Linked DNA regions of Homo sapiens: region 1 is linked to region 2. The links come from fine-mapping of genetic effects on gene expression. Tissue or cell type: whole blood. Region 2 holds a variant in brackets; the other region holds the start of a gene. All regions are shown on one strand. Distances are between the middles of the regions. Region 1 holds the start of FOCAD (focadhesin). Region 2 overlaps MLLT3 (MLLT3 super elongation complex subunit).

The links.
Region 1: it holds the start of FOCAD, and the variant in region 2 is fine-mapped to the expression of FOCAD in whole blood (TOPMed, PIP above 0.99).

Annotation. Positions count from the first base shown.
Region 1 is chr9:20,682,595-20,685,538 of GRCh38, forward strand. FOCAD (focadhesin) reads left to right here and starts at 1,665. Exons shown (of 44, transcript NM_001375567.1): 1 at 1,665-1,699. It overlaps FOCAD-AS1 (FOCAD antisense RNA 1), which reads right to left and starts at 2,156. Exons shown (of 2, transcript NR_121601.1): 1 at 1,974-2,156; 2 at 708-947. RefSeq lists a silencer at 1,268-1,967 and an enhancer at 1,367-2,107.
Region 2 is chr9:20,605,382-20,607,881 of GRCh38, forward strand. The region is part of intron 2 of MLLT3 (MLLT3 super elongation complex subunit); the gene reads right to left. Among named protein-coding and RNA genes, the nearest start is that of MLLT3, 16 kb to the right of the region's middle. The variant C/T (reference allele first, on the strand shown) is at 1,033.

The DNA of each region.
Region 1 (2,944 bases), 77 kb after region 2:
CAAGAAATATAGGAATAGAAGAAAAAATATTAAAATAGTCCTAAAAGAAATACTGGTGCATTTGGAAGACTGAAAGAGAGTATCATCAAAGTCCATAAAAAGGGAATTATAAGCCTTATAAAACTCCTTTGAAGCAAAGGATAACAGAGGTTGAATAACTTTAAGTAGGTTCAATATTGATTGATTGAATGATTGATTGTGACAGTCTCACTCCATCAGAGGCTGGAGTGCAGTGGCGCCACCTCGGCTCACTGCAACCTCCGCCTCCCGGGTTCAAGCGATTCTCCTGCCTCAGCCTCCTGAGTAGAGTAGCCGTGACTGCAGGCGCGCAACCCCACGCCGGGCTAATTTTTGTATGTTTTTTTTAGTAGAGATGGGGTTTCACCACGTTGCCTAGGCTGGTCTTGAACTCCGCCCTCCTCGGCCTCCCAAAGTGCTGGGATTACAGGTGTGAGCCCCCCCACCTGGCCCCAAGATTAATTTAGATAAATTCTTAGAGGGTGAATGCATAGTTGGTTATTGGGAAAACTGTTAACGGTCTGTGATACATAATTACTTTTCTGAGGTGATGGGGAACCAAATTCTTCCTACAAATGAGAAACAGAACTTCTTGTCTACACATTAAAATGACTTTGGAAACTTAGAAAAATATCAATGTCAAGATCTGGCAGCAGACCTTTTTCAACCAAGTGATGAGGCCCAGGCACTTGTTTTTTTATTTTTATTTTTTCCTAAGGGTGCCCCAGGGTTTAGAAACAACTAAGTCAGATATTTTTAGAGTAATTTGTCTTAACTCTTTCATCTTGCGTAAAATTTCCATTCTGTCATCCACAACCGGAATTCCACTCCGTCATACCAGTCTCTCCTCGTTTTTTTCTGCTGGCTCTTTTCAGCGTGTTTCATCGTGGCTGCTGTCTGTCTGTTACAGCCTTCTCACGTGGGAGCCCCTGCCCCGCCCCACGAGAAAATACATGTTTATCATTCAGTAAGTATTGCGCAAAATCGTAACAGAATAATTACTCGCGCCAATTCCCCCCAGATTAGATCAGCAGAAACACTTGGGCTAGAACTACCTCAGGACTATCTAACAAGTGGATATACCACAGTGGCGTGGAGAGCTGCAGTGTTATGTGTTGGCCAAATGAAGTAAAGACACCAAGTAGCTATTAGGCGAAGAACGAAGCGTCTTCGCGGCAAGTCGGCTGTCTGCTTTAAATTTTCTGAATCCTTAATGTTATCAGTATTATTTATTTCCCCCGAGAAACAAAATCTCCAAATACCAAGAAGCTGTTCTGTATTGCCAAAAGCTGCATAGGGGCAGGCTGCCAACAGGACTACCCGGGCACGCTGCAGTGGCATCTCTAGGCAGTTTCCTTTAATCTGATTTTCCTTGGGCTAACTCCTCACTGCGGTGCTGCTCCACAGCCAGCCCCCGCGCGCAGCCCTCCCCGCACCAGCTCGGCTGCAGAGCGCGGGTCCGCCGCCCACGCCGCCTTTCAACCGCAGTGCGCGGCCCGGGCCTTAGACGCGCGTGCGCGCGAGCCGGGGAGGGCGGGCCCCAGCCGGAGGAGGCGGAACAGGGCCTCGCGATATGCAGCCCATTGGCTCTCTCCTGCAGTCCCCGCCCCCGGGCGTTCGAGGCGGCGGGGCGGGCCACGTCAGGCAGCCGGCGCTGGGCTGAGCTTGTGGCAGAAGGGAGGTAAGCCGTGCGGGGCGGCGGGCTGCCACCGCTGCACCCCTGCTCGGGAGCCGCCGGGTCGCGCCGCCTGCGGCCCGGTCGGCTTGCATGGAGGGCGGCTGAGGCCCTGCGGGGCTGGGGCTGAGCTGGGAGACGGGGCAGTGGAGCATGTGGCGGCAGGGCCGCGTCGCGGCGAGGGGCAGCCGGGAGGGGGCTTTTTGCCCTCGTCCGGTCCTGCTGGGGCTCTCAGCTTCTGGAGGACTAGGCCTTCTGAGGTTACGGAGCTCCGAGATACCTGGGCAGGGCTGGCTGTGGTGACTGCGGTGGGACTTAGTGGGATCTCGACTCGGAAGCCGGTCGGCGCGATCCTTGCATACTTAGCTGCAGCAGGTTGCAGTCGTCCCACTCTCCTTCGACCGGTTCCCTAGTTGGGGGCAGAGCAGGAGATTCTGGCCGCGTCCTGCCTGGCCTGGGGTGACTGTCTCCTTCTCATTCCCGGTGACTCACTCAGATCATGTCCACTTATAATGCAAAGGCTTATGGGTGAGCAGGGCCTGTTTTCAGTCTCCTAGTTCTCTGGCTCCGTCCGCACTTGCGGCAATTACTTGAAGAAAGAGTATGTTAGATGTATGTTTTGAAATTTTCGCAGCAGCTAACGCGTGGAGACGTGCAGTTATGTTGCATTTACCCTTCATGAGTTTTAGTTTCAGCTGTGGCGTCCTGATATCTCAGTGTGGTTCCTGAATTTGGAGCTTTTGAAATGAATGAAATCCTGCCAATTTCATGCAGTCATTCATTCATACATTCCAAACTTTTTTGATGGATGCCTTAATGGTCAGCCTCATACCAGGTATTAAAATCGGCATTTCCTGCGTTTTATTCCAGTTTATATGTTAGTTTTATTGTCTAGATTTGAGTTGGAAATTTTTTTTTTTTTTGTTATTTTCAGGTTCTAGTATCCCTGAAACCATCGTGGCTCTGAGGGTGTAATCCTGATAACTGTATCAGTAATGACTCCAGGTTTCAGTGGCCTATCTGTAAGAAGAGGAATGGGATTAGTATAATTTTGAGATTTTCCAGGAGAGGAGGGTAGATGGCATGTTTCCTGAACTGTGTTAACAGGAAGTAACTATTTTAAAAACACAGGATGCATTTTATGATTATGTTTTACTGTGTCAACGAACATTGTATCTGTCCACATTCACTTTTTGACTACCAAGCAAGTGCATGTTTACAATTTTGATTCACATCCAATTCCTGCGTAGA
Region 2 (2,500 bases):
ATATTTATTTATTTATAAATCAAGTGTCTGAAGAATGTGAATAACGGAAACAAAGTAATTTAAATAAGTGACCCAACAAAGTTATGCTTATTAGTCTAGTTAATAACCACGGGTTCATACTAGAAAGAAGCTCCAAAATAATTTCAAACTAAGTTATGTGGGAATAGATATGACACAACATTCCCCATTTCAATATTTATGATGCATATGTAACTATATTGTCTTACTCAAGTAATTCGCCTAAAGAACAATTTTAATCCAGTATTTAACATAATTCCAATCATGTTTACTTCCACAAAGGTTTGGGCCAGAACAATTTTAGTCAGATTTTAAGCTAGTATAACATTTATACTATATGCCATAGGTAAGAGATACTAATTGATTATAAATATATCAAACATACTTTCTGATTATGAGTCCTATATCATCATTTTATACCATCTTAAGTAGAAGAAATCTCACTTCAACTATTAAGCATTTGAAGACAATTACTAAGTGTTGGTTTTGTAAAGGAGTACAAATTACTTAACATTTAATAATTAAAGTATGTGCACGAATGGATATTCCTAAACTGACACACTTATGAATGGCTTACTGGTTTTAAAAAGTAACTCCCAAATGCTGGGTTAATATGTTTCACTTTAGGGACTTAAACCATACTTCTTCAAATAAAATTAAATAAATTAGTTTGCAAGTAATTAATGACGAGAATTCAATAACGTAAAACTATCCCTGCGTATTCTCTATGGCTGGGAAATTTAGCTGGTTATGTTCATATAATACACTTAGTGGGTCTTGGAGCCCACTGCCTGTAAAATCTCCCATGGAGATTCAAGACCACCCATTGAAAATAGAACATTATTGCCTCCAGCAAGAAGCTGGTACATAGGACTGGTTATTCAAGTCTTTTAAATACTATTTTATTGAGGGATTGCAGGAGGTGGGGGAGGGGTGAAGGCGGATTCATGAGTGGATGGGGGAGGAAAACTCAGAAAAAAACAGTAATTTCTAAAGCAGAGGTTCCTGCCGTAC[C/T]CCCTTCACCCACCCGTACTTTTAAAACAGCTACATAAACAAAGTAATAAGTGCTCAATTTCAGAGAGAATTACATTATACTCCATTTGAACAGGCTACAAAGTACTTTTATTTGAAAAGCTGCTTGTGCTCTGTTATAAACAATTTTACTCTGCACCAATTTCAGACAAGAGAAGATGGCTAGGGAGTGTGGGAGGTGGAGTTAGGAAAAATTCACTCAGTGTCTTTCAATGCCTTAAACAGTTGATCCAATAAAGATCCTTTAGAGAAAACTTTAAGTCTATTTTTTTTCTCCAAGTAAGCAAATCATACAGGAGGGCTTTTCTTTTCTAGGGTACTGCACCCTGTCTCTTTAAATTCCAGGCCTGCCCCATTTCCCACGCATTCAATGAAAGCCCCACGTTTGCTGGCCTCCAGCCCACAATGTCAAGTAGTTCTCTTGCTATTGAATTTCAAGATTATTCTTTTGGATCATTTGCCCTTTAGTTTTAAGCACACCAAAGCAAAAATAATGTCTTTCTACAATAACATAAAGAAAACTCAGAGGTCTTTACAAGTCTACAAGTAGAGAACACCTTGTCCTCTGGTTCCTCTTTCACTGCAAAATATGCTCCCACTCCATATGCTCCAAATAAGGGCCATTTGTACACTATCGTCATCTACCATAGTTTTGTCTGTCCTATAACAAAATTTTATGAGTATTTTTATTTAATTTGGTGCCAATTTGGAATCTCTTTGCAATACTCAAACCAGGTCTTCATATTGCTCAAACTCTCCACTCTTCAACTTGGTGTCTGGGGTATTTGGTTATAACAAGTTTTAAAACAATTACTTAATTTTAAAACTATTATTTTATTTTTGCAGTTAAGACATCTATATAAATTAACTTACTAATAAAAGCAGCAAATAAACATTGCCATCTGTACTCATTGTGCCAAAGAGTATATTTTCCTCATTCTTGTATACACCTTAATCCTGAAGAAGGGATTCCAGGCCATTATCAATCACATTTAGAATTCTCTCAAAAGGAATAGACATAGTTAAGCAGAAATTTGTCAGCAGAACTAAATTAAGTTCATGGAATATAATCTTATTCCAAATGCTGGCAAATAGAATTTGAAGTTGCAATTTTATTCAAGCAGCTAATAAGAAATACCCAGATCATAAACATCATTGTTTATATTTCACAAACATTCTAAGGTAGAGTTAATCTATTTGTATTTTATGGATTTTGTAAAATCATCTACTACTAAAGGGAAAATGCCCTTATTTTTATTTGACATATAGCTTTGCTATGCATTAGTGCACAGTACACTTTTAAAGTTTAATGTCAAAATGCAAATGTGTTTTCTCACGGACTATAAAATCATGGACTTAATTAGATAAATTTTAGATTGCAGAGAGACCCTTGAGACAACTAAAATTAACCTCCTCATTTTGCGGAAATCATTTTTAGTTATGCTTAAGG